Linked DNA regions of Homo sapiens: region 2 is linked to region 1. A link means that fine-mapping ties the variant in region 1 to the expression of a gene that starts in the linked region. Tissue or cell type: whole blood. Region 1 holds a variant in brackets; the other region holds the start of a gene. All regions are shown on one strand. Distances are from middle to middle.

The links. PIP is the estimated chance that this variant, and not a neighbour inherited with it, causes the effect.
Region 2: it holds the start of RCBTB2, and the variant in region 1 is fine-mapped to the expression of RCBTB2 in whole blood (TOPMed, PIP above 0.99).

Annotation. Positions count from the first base shown.
Region 1 is chr13:48,384,639-48,392,745 of GRCh38, forward strand. The region is part of intron 17 of RB1 (RB transcriptional corepressor 1); the gene reads left to right. It also overlaps a transcript of LPAR6 not described here. Among named protein-coding and RNA genes, the nearest start is that of LPAR6, 24 kb to the right of the region's middle. The variant G/T (reference allele first, on the strand shown) is at 5,015.
Region 2 is chr13:48,529,279-48,537,365 of GRCh38, forward strand. RCBTB2 (RCC1 and BTB domain containing protein 2) reads right to left here and starts at 3,802. Exons shown (of 15, transcript NM_001268.4): 1 at 3,750-3,802. It overlaps LOC124903174 (a long non-coding RNA gene), which reads left to right. Exons shown (of 2, transcript XR_007063795.1): 1 at 1-2,771. RefSeq lists enhancers at 2,118-2,287, 3,178-3,417 and silencers at 3,458-3,857, 3,968-4,017.

The DNA.
Region 1 (8,107 bases):
TTCACACAGAGTTGTTGACTGAGGGAAATTTCAAATGAGGTGCTGCTTACTTCTCTCCTGCCAATAATTTAATGAAAGAAAGAACATCATCTTATTTTTAATGGTTGTGTGGGGAACTGGGTTCAGCATTTTTGCTTGACAGCCTTGAGATAAAATAAATCCATAAGGAAAAAGCCCACTTCTGTTTCTTTTCATCCCAGAGAGATTAATGGGCAATATATGAGTGTAAGATACTGGAAAAGTCTGTTGAGAAACCTAGTGAAATCTCATTCTCTGAAAAGTTGGGGGATTACAGGTGCTATCGAATGCATCATACCTAAGGGTTAGATGAAATGACTTCCAAGAGTTTGGCCCTATTAAATCTGTTAAGAGGTTTATAATGCCAGCAGGTGATGAAATGAAATTTGGATGCCTTAGTTTCAGTATTTTCAGAATTTATCATATTTTTTCAATAAATGTTTATAAATCAAAGTATGTCAGATGCTTTATTCCCTATATGATCTGTCTTTCCTGGACTATTCTGGACTCTTCCTATTGATCTCTCATTTGCTACCTTGAGACCATTTCTCTCACAGCAGCCAGAGAAATCTGCTCATAATGTAAATCTCATCATGCTAATTCCTCAGGTAAAAAACCTCCTGTGGAGGACATATTCATCTGGTAATGTTGGAAGAAGACCCTACCATATGGCTTTCTGCAAAAAAGACCACTATACTACCTGTTTGGAATACAAAAAGTAACTGACTGAAATTACTGGACAGGAAGAACAGATGCTAGTTGAGAAAGAGAAGAGGGGAGCTGGGAGCCTGAGGAGAAGGCTTTTAGTCTAGGGCTAAGTGCAGTAGGTATAGGGAAGGACAGTAAGGTAGGGCAGGGATGTCAGTGGGAAAACTATGGGTCTCTTCACCAGGAAAACTGGAAAATTGAAGCTAGGGAAACCTTGGCCACTGAAGAGAGTGGAAGAATCCTGCAAGGGAAAGAGCCAAGAAAGGGTACCCAGATTCTGTCTGAAATCTGAATAATTCCTGTGTGTCACAGACTCAGAGCAGCCAAATGAAGGGCAAAAGATCTGAACTGAAACTGGAGTTGCTGCCCAATAAACAGAACAGTTCAAGTTAAGCAAAGATAATTGCTTCTTACAACAAAACCATTCTCATTTTAGAAAAATAACAGAATTTAGGATCTTCACAATGTAACATTTATGATGTTCAGGATACAGTTCTAAAATTATCCAGCATAGAAAGAAGGTCAAAGAAACCAAATGCTGGTTTATAGAATAGGAGCTTTAGGCCAGGTGTGTGGTGCACACCTAATCCCAGCATTTTGGGAGGCTGAGGTGGGAGGATCATTTGAGCCCAGAAGTTCAAGACCAGCCTGGGCAACAAAGCAAGACCCCATCTCTTAAAAAAAAAAAAAAAAAGCTAGGTGTGATGGCATGGTGGCATGTTCCTGTGGTCCTAGGTACTTGGGAGGCTGAGGCAACACAGCGAGACTCTGTCTCAAAAAAATAAAAAATAAAAACAAAAAAACTAGAATGGGAGCTTTAAGTTAACTTTGGTTAGGCATTGCTAAATGATGGGGATACATTCTAGGAAATACTTCATTTAGGCAACTTTGTCATTGTGTGAACATCATAGAGTGTGCTTACACAAACCTAGGTGGTATAGCCTGCTACACATCAGGGTAGGAATAGCCTGTTGCTTCTAGACTACAGACCTGTATGGTATTTTTTTTTTAATCTCCACTCTTGAGTATGTCTTTTTAATATTCAATGTGATGAAACTGAAGTATGTAGAAAGTTGCATACCAAAGTATGATAGCTGTCTTGAGGAAAAATACTTATTTTATTGGTTGAGTTGTGAACTGAACCCGTCACTCTTTTCGTGAAACACATGTGTTACTTGTAAGACTGATAAGCAATTGTGTTTATTTATGCTTGGGTATGTGGTAGATTCTTGAAAGTGAACAAAGTGAGCCTGTCATTTCAAAGAAAACAACTGACAGTAAAGGTTGCCAATGATAAATTTTGTGTTTTCAAGTAAAAATTAGAATTTTAGAAACTTGTATCCACCACTGAAAGCTTGACAGAGTCCTAATATATAAAATACTTTTCTGATGAAATCGGTGGTGATATCAATGAATGTGAGAGATTTGTAAACATTTACAAGAAGTACATAATTCAGTGAACCAGTATTTCCAAATGACCAAATACATCGTTATAAAATCATTCACGGGTAAGATATTCATTAAAAGTTCAAGATAAACCAATGGATTTTAAAGTCTTAAAATACGAAAAATTTATTTCGGTTCATTGAGATTGTTTCCAGTTCCGCCCTGCAACTAACCTTTAAGAAACTATGACTTGTCGAGTTTTGGCGTAGTGTCAGAAAACAGTAACCATAATTATCTGAAAAGGTTATTAAAGTACTCCTCCTCTTTCCATATGAGGCCAGATTTTTCTTTGTATACTTCAACCTAAACAGCATATTGCAACAAAGTAAATGTAGAAGCGGATAGGAAAATTCAGCTCTTTGCTGTTATGCCAGATAGTGAAGACATTCAGAAGATCATAAAACAGTGCTATTGTTCTATCTTTTTTGTTTTGTAGAATATGGTTATTTTTCATTAAAAATTATTTATGTTAACATAATGGGTTTATTAAGATAAATATTTTTAAATTTTCTCAAGTTCTTTTGAGCCCTCAACATCCTTTAATGTAAAAAAGCTATTAGCTACTTTATGCTTCCTAATGGAAGAATATATAACCACCTTGAAAACATGATGTTGAAAGAAGCCAGTCACAGAAAACCACATATTGTATAAATTCATTTATATGAAATGTCCACAAGAGGCAATTCAGTAGAGATAGGAAGTAGATTATTGGTTTTCTAAGGCTGGTGGGGAGGACTAGGTGTTTTGAGGATGATGGCTAGAGAGTATGGTTTTTCTTTTTGAGATAATGAAAATGTTGTAAAATTGACTCATTATTGTAGTCAATTTTATAACACTTTTATCATCTCTGTGAATATACTAAAAACTATTGAATTGTACACATTAAATGGGTGAATTGTATAGGATGTAATTTTTTAAATTTCTGTTTTAATTAAATTTTAACTAAATTAAGTTTTAATTACTAACAAAGTAAATATTAATAGATTTAACCCACACAAACAAAAGCTTTTGGGGTCCTTAGTAATTTTAAGAATATAAAAGGGTTTTGAGTCCAAAAAGTTTGAGAACCCTTGCCTGTATTCTCTTCCCCACTCAGACTTGTCTTTCACTCACACAACCATGTTTGTTTTTGCCTGTCCCTGAGTCTTGAAATGCTTTCCTCTGCCTTTTTCTTGACCAGATTTTAAGGTCCATTTTGCCTTTCCTGATCATCCTAGTCTATAGTCATTCTTCCCTCATTTAGTCTTAAATTGTTTATTATCTATATACTTAACTAGTCATTTATAAACTTTGTTTTACTATATGTGCATATCTCATGTTAAATTCATGTAAAGTACTTAAAACAATATCTGACATTGTATTATAAAATGTAGCAGTTAATTACATAAGGGTAAAGAACAGAGAGGAGTCAACTTATGATGACATGCAGGTTTCTGGCTTGTATAACTTAAGTGGATAGTAGTGTCATTCATTAAAATAAGATACCTAGGATTGAATGAGGTTTGCTTGGGAAGATGAATTTCATTTGATGAGTTTTAAGTAATTATAGGTCATTTCAATAGAGGTGTCAAGTAGCAGTTGGATATGTGTGTCTGGAACTTAGGAAAGAAATCTAGGCTAAGATTATGGACCATAAAAAATGCCACCCTTTTTTGACAGTTTATCTTGTGCCAGGCACTTTGGTGAGCACTTCTTAAATTTAATTTTCATCATAATCCATGAGGTAGTTTACCCTAGATCAGGAAATGAATGCTTAGAAAAGTTTAATAACTTGCCCTAGACCACACAAGCAAAATGGCAAGATCTGTGATTTGAACCCAGGTCTTTCTGGCTCCAAAGCTATTAATCCTTATGCTTTGCTGAGTAACTGAAGTTTGGAGAAGGGATAAGATCACTTAAGGGGAGAATATAGTATGAGAAGAGAAGGAGGCTAAAGATAGAATTCTAAGGAGCTCTAACATTTAAAGGATGGACAGAAAAGAGAAGCCTGTGCCTACAAAAGAGATTGAAATAGAACAGCCAGGAAGATAAGAAGAAAATCAGGAGAAGTGGTATCATAGAGAGACCGACCAGGTGCAATGGCTCCCGCCTGTAATCCCAGCACTTTGGGAGGCTGAGGCAGGTGGATCACTTGAGGCCAGGAGTTCGAGACTAGCCTGACCAACATGACAAAACCCTGTCTCTACTAAAAATACAAAAATTAGCTGGGCCTGGTGGTGAATGCCTGTAATTCTAGCTACTCGGGAGGCTGAGGCATGAGAATCGCTTGAGCCCGGGAGGCGGAGGTTGAGTGAGCCAAGATTGTGCCACTGCACTCCAGCCTCAGTGACAGAGCAAGACTCTGTCTCAAAAATAAAATAAAATAAAATTAAATTAAATTAAAAACTGAAAAAAAGGAAAAGGAGAGAGAGAACATTACAAAGTCTGAGTGAGTGCTTGCTCACTCAGACTTTTCAGATAGGAGCTGAAAAGTTTTAGCAACAATGAAGTCACTGGTGACAGTGACAAGGACTGTTAAATGAAGGGGTGGGGATAGGATGAGATCTGAATGAGAGATAAAGTGGACACAGTCAAATAGATGGCTTTTATCAAAAGTTTTGCCTGTGAAGAGAAATAAAGATATAACAGAAGTAAAGATACAGCTTGATGTATGTGAAGTAGAGGGAATATAAACATATTTTTTAAATCAGAAAGGTAGGGTTTAAATATTGATGGAAAAGAGCCATTAGAAGTGTTCTCTATTGCTGGATAACAAATTAGTGGCTTTAAACAAATATTTTATTTTGCTTATGATTTTTTGGGTCAGGAATTTGGGTTGAACTTGACTGGGTGGTTTGTCTCC[G/T]ACTATGTGTCAGCAGGTGCCTGGAGCTATAGGGTCCACTTCCAAGATGCTTCTTCACTCACAGGTCTGGCATCTTACCGCTCCTTGGTGCACACTCAGCTCTCTTCCTCCCATCCTCCCTCCCTAGAGTGGTTAGAATGTTAAGCTTTGGAGTTTTCACCTGCAGAGAGAAGATAGGAGATTCATAGTGAAAGTAGAGGTTTTAAGAAACAGGATATTTGGCAGGGTGCAGTGTCTCACACCTGTAATCCCAGCACTTTGGGAAGCCAAGGTGAGAGGATTGCTTGAGCCCGAGTTCAAGACCAGCCTTGGCAACATAGGGAGACCCTGTCTCTACAGATAATTTTTAAAATTAGCCAGGTGTGGTGGCACACACCTGTGGTTCTTGGGAGGCTGAACTGGGAGAATTGCCTGAGCCTGGGATGTTAAGGCTGCAGTGAGCTGTGATTGCACCACAGCACACCAGCCTGGGTGGTAGAATGAGATCCTGCCTCAAAAACAAACAAAACAAGCAAACAACCCCAAAACAAACAAACAAAAAGTAACAGGATATTTCATTAAATAATTCATTCATTAAATAATGAAGTTGAACGTAATGAATTTAATGAAGTTTAATAGGTGTAGTGGGAGTAACAATGAGAATGAAAGTGTAGGAGGTTGTAGTCAAAGAGTTGTTTCACCTTAGAATTTCTGGAGACAGAACATTTCTGGGTAGTTTACTGTATTTTAAGAAATGATCTTGGGAGTGCATGAGGATCCTGGCCAAGGAGCCAGAAAGTACAGTGAGCAAGAGTCCAGGACATGTAGCAAGGAGGAATGTGACTGAAATAAAGACTAATGTCTTCAGTGCTTGAGGGGAGTAACCAGGAGACAAGTGGGACTAAATGGGGCAGAGGGCTAGAGAGGTCCTGAAAGCAAAACTCCTGGCTCACTTAAAAAAAAACTAATCTCTCTCTCAATACCTAATCTAATGTCTAACATATAGAATTTAGGTGCATAAAGCATTAGATTTGTAATGTCCTTTGATGAATTTACCTCTTTAATCATTATAAAATGACCCTCTCTTTATCCCTCGTAATATTGTTTGCTCTGAAAACTACTTGTGCCTGATACTAGTGAAGCCATTCCAGCTTTCTTCCCATTAATATCAACATGGCATATTTTCCCCATTCTTTATTTAACTTATACGTGTCTTTATTCTTAAAGAAGTGATTTTCTTATAGGCAGCATATTGTTGGGTGTTGCTTTCTTAAATCTTGCCTAACAGTATCTGCCTTTTAATTGGGATGTTTAGATTTAAATTTAATGTGACTATTGATATGGTTGGGTTTAAATTCTCCATCTTATTATTCATTTTCTATTTGTCTCATCTCCCTTTTCCTCCCTTTCCTCTTTTTCTGCCTTCTTTTGGATTGAATTTTTAAAATTCTGTTTTATCTTCTTTGTAGGCTTACTGTCTATACTTCTTTATTTTGTAATTGTTTTTTGATTTATAATATGAATCTTTAATCTTTAATAGTCTTTCTTTAAATAGTATTACACTACTTCACATACAGTATAAGAATCTTAGAATAGTATATTTCCATTTTCCCTTTTCCAACCTTTGGGCTGTTGTTGTCATACATTTTGCTTCGACAGAAGTTATAAGCTCTACAATACACTCATAACTTTTGTTTTAAACCAATTATCTCTTAAAGAGAATTCAAAACAAGAGAAAAAAGATGTTTTTATTTGATTACATATTTACCTTTCCAGTACTCTTCATTCCTTGTGTAGATCCAGATTCCTTTTGTTTTCCTTCTGACTGTAAAACTTTTTTTGGCCAGGGGCAGTGGCTCATACCCGTAATCCCAACACTTAGTGGGGCTGAGGCGGGAGGATCTCTTGAAGCCAGGAGTTCAAAACCAGCCTAGGCAACAAAGCAAAACTCTGTCTCTATTCTTATAAAACAAACAAAAAGCATTTCTATTTTTTTTTTCTTTTTGAGATGGAGTCTCTCTCTGTCACCCAGGCTGGAGTGCAGTGGCGCGATCTTGGCTCACTGCAACCTCCACCTCCTGGGTTCAAGCGATTCTCCTGCCTCAGCCTCCTGAGTAGCTGGGATTACAGGCACACGCCACCATGCCTAGCTAATTTTTATATTTTTAGTAGAGAAAGGGTTTCACCATGTTGATCAGGCTGGTCTCGAACTCCTGACCTCGTGATTTGCCTGCCTCGGCCTCCTCCCAAAGGGCTGGGATTACTGGCATGAGCCACCGCACCCAGCCAACAAAAAACATTTCTTGTGTGCATGTCTACTAGTGATGAATTCTTCCAGCTTTTATGTCTGGAAAAAAACATTTTACCTTTATTTTTAAAAGGTCTTTTGCTGGGTATTGAATTCTAGGTTGACAGTCTTTTTGTTTTTTCTTTGAGTGCTTTAAAAATATTGCTCCACTGTCTTCTGGTTTGCCTTGTTTCTTTTTTTCTTTTTTTTGAGATGAAGCCTCGCTCTTTTGCCCAGGCTGGAGTGCAGTGGCATGATCCCAGCTCACTGCAACCTCTGCCTCCCAGGTTCAAGCGATTCTTCTGCCTCAGCCTCCTGAGTGACTGGGACTAAAGGCACATGCCACCATGCCCGGCTAATTTTTGTATTTTTAGTAAAGATGGGGTTTCACCATGCTGGCCAGGCTGGTCTCGAACTCCTGATCTCAGGTGACCCACCCACCTTGGCTTCCCAAAGTGCTGGGATTACAAGCATGAGCCACCACGCCTGGCCTTGTTCTTTTTTTGCTGTATCTTTTTCCTGCAGGTTTTTCTTTCTGTATTTCATGTTGAATACCTTCTAAAGCTATGTCTTCAAGTTTATTAATTTTTTTCTTCTGAGGTATCTAATCTGCTATTAATCTCATTTATTGTATTTTTAGTCTTACTATAGTTTTCATTTCTAGAAATTTGATTTGGGTCCTTTTTATATCTTCCATATCTATTTTTATTATGTTTATGCTTTTCTTTACCTTCTTGAACATATGGGATATAGGTATTATAACTTTTTAAATGTCCCTGTTACTAAGTCTAGTACCTATGTCTTTTTAGGTCTGTTTCTCTTGACTG
Region 2 (8,087 bases), 140 kb after region 1:
CAGAGATCCTAATTGTTAAAGATCTTTGACCCACAGCATATATATTCCTTCAACATGGCAGGCCCTCTTGGCCTTGGCTCATTTCCACTTGAGATTGGTTTTGTTCAGTATTATATACATACATACACGCAGCATAATACAGGACATATTATAATGCAGTCAAAATTTATGTTTTATTCACATACTATCTCCTACTGGTACTTGTTAGCTCAAAACATCTTCCATAGGGAGATATACATAAGAGATATTAGCTCAGGCCAATTAGCAAGGCTGAAGACGTAAAAGAAACCCACTCTAATGTCAAATTAATGCTGAAAAATTATTATGGTTTAAGTTTCCTGGAAACTTTCACGTTGTTAGAATGTGATCACCATGTGAACTAGATACATGTTCCTTCCAGACAATGAAAGCTGGAAGTATCATCTCAGCCTTCCATTGATGGACATTATCAATATCCCTTACCAGGAGGCAAGCCATCCACTCCTTTGAAGTAAAATCTCCAAGTAGAACTCTCTTTTAGTCTTTAACAAGAGTCCTTAATGTCACTCTGTAACCCCAATAATTCCTGGTCTCCAATCTACCTTTTCCTGGACAATTTTAATCTGTAGCAATATTTATTTATTTATTTATGAGATGGGGTCTTACACTATTGCCCAGACTGGAGTGCAATGGTGTGATCATGACTCACTGCAGCCTCAACCTTCCCGGCTCCAGTGATCCTCACACTACAGCCTCCCAAGTATCTGAAACTACAGGTGTGTGCCACCATGCCTGGCTCATTTTTTTTTTGTTCGTTTTTCTGTAGAGACAGAGTTTTGCCATGTTGTCCCGGCTGGTCTCTAACTCCTGGGCTCAAGAACATTTGACTGCCTTGGTCTCCCCCAAAGCGCTGGGATTACAGGTGAGCCACCGCGCCCGGCCTGATTTGTAGTAATTTAAATCCAAGTAAACCTCAACAGTAGCAGTATCTTGGGGCATTTAAATTTTACTTTAACCAACTGATAAAACCAAACTTGAATATGACAATTTCATAGGGCATAAGCAAATTCCATGGACTCCTTACATTTATGGTCCTAGATTAATAATATTTTGGTGTTTGAACAGAGTATTTGTAATCTATGTAAGTAAAGGACATGAGGGGAAACACACTTTACTTTCTAAAATTATTCCTCTCCATCACCCTCTTTCTCTAAGCCTTCTTTAATTATGGATTGAAATTTAGTTAGGTCTATCTGGTTCATTCAGATACCTGTAAGAGAGGTCATTTATAGCATAACATCACACCAGGTGATTTAAGCTCCTCTCCTACACAGTTTCAAATACAGAAAAGCAATGACCATTCTTAGAAAAGATCTTCACTAGTCATCCACAGTCAGAGGGACATTTAGAAGCAATTGCAAAAACTGTGGAGACAACGTACAGTTTTTCTCAGCACAATTTACATAGATGTCTGGCTAGCTCTTCCTTGTAAAAGTCCAGTGTCTTCATTTGATGTGCTAAGTTAAACTGTAAACTCCTGAATAATTTGAACTCTTATTTAGGAAAAAAATGTTTTTTCACCTATATACTATAAAAAATGGTGACGTTTATCACAAGGGTCATGCCGTGGGCTCCCATAAAAGACATTGTAGAGCACGATAAAGAACGTTTTCTCCCAGAAGAACATTTATTTCTAAAACCCAGTTCCCCATGTTAAACATCACCTTTGGTTTATCCTTCAGACTCACCGTACCCATGATGTTTAAAATTGCAACCCACACCTGCACTCCCAATTCCCTTTCTCTGTTCTCCTTTTTCATTTTTTCATAGCATTTGTACTTTTCTAACCTAATATACAAATATGTTTTTTATCATTCTTTGCTAGAATGTAAGCTCCAGAGGGAAGGGATCTTTGTCTCTTTTGTTCATTGATGCATCCCAAGCATCAAGGACAGGACGTGATAGAAAATCAATTTTTGTTGAATAAATGAATGAATCTAGGTTGAGTTCAGTAAAAAAATATCTCTGGAGTAAGTTAGTTTCCAATTTTATTTCTACAATTAACAAATACCTTCTGAGCTTCAATTATGGTGGAGATAGATTGATCATACCCTTACAAATATATAATATCAGATGGTGATTAAGTGCTACAAAGCCGAACCAGCAGTACAAGAGTTTGGAGAGCCAGACATTTTAGGTGAGGTAGTCACCTCTCTGAAATGATGGCAATTGTTTCAAGACTTAAATAAAGTTCTGTGCCATGCAGATTTGCGAAGAGTGGGAAAGTGAGCATTGAGCATACTGGAAATACCAAACGCAGACGCCCTGGGATGAGGGTCCGCTTGGCGAGCCCAGCAAGAGCAATAAGGCCTGAGTGGTGGAAGTGGGGTATGCAAGAACGTATCATTCTTGTTGCTTTTACCTGCTGCTTAATAACACGCATGTACTGTCTAGCAGGAAATAAAGAGATTACGTTTCACCTAGAATACTCATTCTCTGAGCCTAAGTGGCTCTTCTATTCCAGCCCCCAAATATCTGTATCAGCACATCATATAAGATTACAAAGCACAGAGTAATGACATTGTTAGAAACTCTTCACAGTAGCCCCAGGAGTCACGAAACTGACTTAACTAAGACCCACTGTCTAGTAAGGTGTAAAACCCAGCAGGAACGCAATACTAGGAAGGTGCAAAGCCAGGAGGCTCAATAAACGTTAAACAGTGTCTGGGGGAAAGAGCAACGATCCAGAGCACTGTTTGTGAACTCAACCACTTTTATTCAGCTCTGACAAGGTAAGTCGCCAAGCGCGGTACAAAGTAGCTCCATGAAATGCGTTTTGTTATAGTCCTGGTCTCGAACTGTTGCAACATTTTATGTAATTTTTGCAAAGAACAAAAGCAAAAAGTTCATTCTAAATTAGCCTTCCAACTCAGTTCTTTCTCCGCCAAGACGGAGCACTTGGAAAGTTTTCAATGTCTGAAAACCTCTATTTCCAGGGCTGAGCAGAGCACTATGTTGCGGCTTAAGACGCTCGGCGATTTCTTCCCATCCCTCCGCAGTTCCAAAACGGCTTCGCCTAACAAAGTCAAACTTTTCGCGCTATTCCTGGACATCAGGACCAAATGTCGAAAGCATATACTGCCACTGAGTTAGTGAGCCGGGCCGGTGCCCGGGACCTGGGGTACTAGATTTATGGGACGGGAGCCTAGGGGTCGAGGCCACAGAAATGAAAACATCGGCAACATATGCAGTGCAGCGAGTGGGTTAGGAGGGAGAAACTTCAGGCAGGACGCTCCCTCGGGACCTGTGACGCCCCCCCAGCCACACCAGACGTGGGAGCTTAGGATGAGAGCGGCCTCCGAGCAGATGATCACCCTGGAACGACGCCAAACGCGACCCCTACCAGAGGACTCGCGCATGCGCAGCGCAGCCTGGGCCGGCGGCCTGGGCAGGATGTAGTCGCGAGCAGCGCACCGGGCCCACGCCAGCGGAATTGCGCATGCGCAGGGCCGCCTCTGCCTGCGGCCTGGGCTGGGTGTAGCCCCGGAACCTAGCTCTTAACTCCCGCCAGCAGTTTTACGCATGCGCGACGACGCCTAGGCCTGTGGCACGGTCGCGGCTCTAGTCCCCTGGGCCCCTCAGCTGTCTCTGGCGGGGAGGTCGGGCCGCAGGGGCGGGGAGGGGTGGCCTGCCCCAGTGGTACCTGACAGCATCCCACGTCACGGCCGCGATCCCCCTCGGCCTCCCACACCACTCCTCCACCCTCTTACCTCCTCGCAGGCCGGAGCCTTGTCCGCTCCGCCTCCTGGGTAGCGGTTACTGCACGGTCAGGGGCCCGGCGCCGCGATGAGTTGGCGCCTCCCCCTGAAACGGCCCGGCCTCGGCGGGATGCGCTCGGGTGCCCGGCCGAGACGGAAACGAAGGGAGCGCAGACAAGAGGAGGGGGCTGGCGACGGCGTCTCGCCCCTCCTCTCCTCCCTAGGCTGCCCACCGCCGCCCCTCCCCTTTCTCGCAGACGCCCCCTCCCCTCGGAGTTGACCCCCGGGAGTCTCCCATTGGGGCCGCCTCCGCTTTTCCAGGGAGTTCCTCCGTGGGTCACCCCCACCTTCTCCAGGGTTATGTTCTCGCAAATTTTGGGAATTTGTGGATACCCGACCTAGAAGGATAAGGCGTGTATGATGCTGAGAGCAACCTTTTCCACAGCCCCTCTCCTCCAGCCTGCCCCAGCTTTTCTTCTATTGCTGGCCCCTCTATCTGGGGGCTCCGATCACTTCACGTTTTCACCCCATTGCTGTGGGGCGGAAGTCTTGTAGCCCCCTGTAGTACAAATGCTGAAATAATGAGGATGTGTGCTGGGGGGTTCAGGGGGATGACCTCAGTTACCTTGGGGCCAAGGGCTTCGAAAACAGCCACCTTCTCCCCTTATGATTATATTTTGCAGTAATTTATTATATTACACTGCACTTCTGTTGGCCTTTGTAGATTTAAGTAAAATGCACCACAACTTTGCAGTGTGCAATAATTTCTTCCACTGCACTACACTTAAATTGACCTGAGTGGGTTTTGGTTAAATGCTCAACAATTAAATGTTATTAGCTATTCCTGTGAAGTAAGCTACTTGCTTTTATACTGGCTGTTTCATGAGGACACTGGTTCCTCTACAGTGTAGAGCCAAAAGTAGTAAAGCCAAAGAGAAAAACTAACATTCCAAACCACAGTGACCGTGTCAGTCTGTTTCGTCTGGCTTTTGTCATTTCTTCGGAAAAACATCATTCTAAAATGTATAACTGCCTTTCTGCTACATAGGGCAGACATTTATCTCTATTCTCTGAGCATAGCCCACTGAGCCTCAGAAGGAGGCACGCAAAATGGTACACAGGTATTTCTTGTAGAGCTCTAAATGGAAGAAAAAGTAAGTATACATTAACAGGAAGTTGCAGCGATAGTGCAGAGAGGCATCGTGTGCCTGCCCCAAGTTTCTCCACTGGTTACATCTTATCAATGAAAGAAATTTATGAGTTAAACAGGTTTGCTCTCAGAAAAAGCTCACTTCAGTGATGATAGCTGGCATTTTTTTTTTAAGCACCTATTGTGTGCCAAGAGGTTTATCTTATTTGGAGCTCACAATAATCCTGTAAGGCAAGGATTATCCTTACTTTACAGATAAGGCAACTCAGGCCCCAAGAGATTAAGTTTCTTTCATCAGCAACCATGGCAAGATCTGTTTGCCTTGCGCACTTGGTCTTTTACGCATTATGGACAGCTGAAGTTCATGCAGGCCTTACGGTGTGCTTCAGCTGAAGCCTGACAATTAGCTAACAATAAAAACATGTCTTAGTGTTTTGAAAACTGTGATATTATCTCAGAAGTTAAAACTTTAAAATATACCTATAAAAGAATGTGTTTCACTAAAGATTTTAATTTTATATGGGTCCAACAGTTTTTCCCAGGGCGGTCAAAATTAAAAGTAAGAAGTAAAAATGTCTCCATCACATATAAGTTTCCTTCAACACTTTTGGATAATTTGGTCTACTAAACTTCACTGTATTGCTGAATTCAGTAGACTAAAAATTTAGACTCTGAGAGAGTATAGGTTAGTATTTCAGGAGTTAAAGTTCCCATCACCACATCTCCCAAGTTTACCTACATCTGTACCTGTGCACTCTATTCCTTCCCATTACTGGGAATGAGCTGTGCATGCTCTTATTTAAGTTCAACTCTTCCACCTTTGTATTAGATCCTGTCTTCCTTACAGTCTCAAGGTTTTCACTCAGGTAGTTGTCACCTCTCAATCCTACATTATTAATTTTTGTATCATTAATTTTTGGATCATTCCCATAAGCATATTAACATTGCGCAACATTTGCCTATCTTTTAAAAAGTTCCTTGATTATATGTCCCCTATCAGCTACCAATGTGTTCTCTGGTCTCTTCCAAAATGTCTTAAAAGAGTCACTTATACTAACTGTATCCTCATCCCCTCCTCCTATTCATCCTCTTTTTTTTTTTTTTTTTTGAGATAGAATCTTGCTCTGTTGCCCAGGTTGGAGTGCAGTGGCGCAATCTCAGCTCACTGCAACCTCCACCTCCCGGGTTCAGGTGATTCTCATGCCTAAGCCTCCCAAGTAGTTGGAACGGCAGGTGTGTGCCACCATGCCCAGCTAATTTTTGAATTTTTAATAGAGATGGGGTTTCGCCATGTTGGCCAGAATGGTCTAGAGCTCCTGACCTCAGGTGATCTATCCACCTCAGCCTCCTAAAGTGCCGAGATTATAGATGTGAGCTATCATGCTTGGCCCTCCTATTCATTCTTGAATCTATTTCAGCCAGGCTTTTGCCCCTACCCCTCCATTGAAACTCCTCTTGGCAAAGTCACCAATGACCTCAGAATTGCTAAATCAGTGGTTACTTTTCCATTATCTCACCTGAACTATCAGCAGCATTAGAAGCATTTGCTTACAGCTGCCATCTTGAAGCATTCATCTTCTTCTGTTGGCCTTCAGGTGGCCCCTGTCTCTTGGTTCGTCCATCTCACTGGCAGCTCCATTGGCTCATCCACCACTTCTCCAGCCATTGGCATACCCAGAGTTTGGTTCTTGGACTTCTCTATCTTCTCGTTCCCTTAGTAATTTTATTTCAAGACATGGTTTTAGTCCTGCCACTTCTTATGTCCTAACAAGTTCATGACACTACTCTTGTGAAACTAGGAGCCCTTGTCCTTTTCCAGCCCACAATGGGGATCTAGCTGCAATAAAAGTCTTCCCTTTCTTCCCTTTTTAAACCCCCTAATTACTTCTGCTTTTGGGGTATCTTTAAGCCTCCTTTAGTTATCCAAAAGCAGAGGAATTCATCTTGCTTTTTTCTTTTCAGGTATCCAGGCACCAAGGCCCTAATCACAAGAAAAGGTGGATGGGGCCGTCTTTTGACTTTTTCTTGGAAATTCAGAAAGTCTAATTACGCTTCAGGGAAGAGGAAAATGTTCTTTTTTTCCTCTTTGCGTCTCCAGAACAAAAATTTAGCACCAGTAAATTTCTACATCAGTCTGCTTGTTACAGATTGAATGCATGAATGAATGACTGCAAGCAGCCTGCACTTTGGTGCCCTAAGTGCCATTGATTAGGTGAATGACCTTGGGTAGCACCTTAGTTTTCTAGAACTTAAATTCCTTCAGACTCCATTAAATTGGTGCACTGCCCAGCTCTGTGTTTTGTAGAGGTATCAGTCACACTGCACCTTTACTGATGCATGCTATTACCATGCTGTATAGAATTGTGCATGTCAGCATGGTATTATAATTGGTGTTAGAATATAAAAGTGATAAAGATGATAATAGGCACATATACACTTACTGTGGCAATAGTGAAAGAATGACAAAATACCAAGAGGTGATCAGAGAAGGCTTTCCAAAACAGATTACTTTAGCATTAAGTTTTCAGTGTGGGCTGGGTGCCATGGCTCATGCCTGTAATTCCAGCACTTTGGGAGGCGGAGATGGGCGGATCACTTGAGGTCAGGAGTTCTTGATCAGCGTGGCCAACATGGTGAAACCCCGTCTCTGCTAAAAATACAAAAATTAGCCAGGCATGGTGGTGGGTGCCTGTAATCCCAGCCACTTGGGAGGCTGAGTCAGTGTGAGTTAGCTAAGAGAACAAAGGTTAGGGATGGAAGTGTTAGGGAAGGGAAGTAGTCTAAGTAGAATAAGAAATATGATGTGTTTGAGAATTATAAATTGCTCAGTAAGGCTGAAACAAAGGCTATATGGAGGGAATAGGGCAATGGTAGGAAATTAAAGTAACCATTCATTCATGAATGGACACTAAGGATGATTCTTTATCTCAACAATTGTGAATAGTGCTGCAGTGAACATGGGAGCACAGATATCTCTTCAACATACTGATTCATTTTTGTTGGACATATACTCAGTAGTGAGATTGCTAAAAATAGTCCTATTTTTAATTTTTTGAGGACCTCTGTACTGGTTTTCGTAATGCCTGTACTAATTTACATTCCCATCAACAAAGGTTCCTTTTTCTCCACATCATTGCCAACACTTGTTATTTTTCATCTTTTTTATAATAGCCATCTTTACAGGTGTGGGGTGATATCTC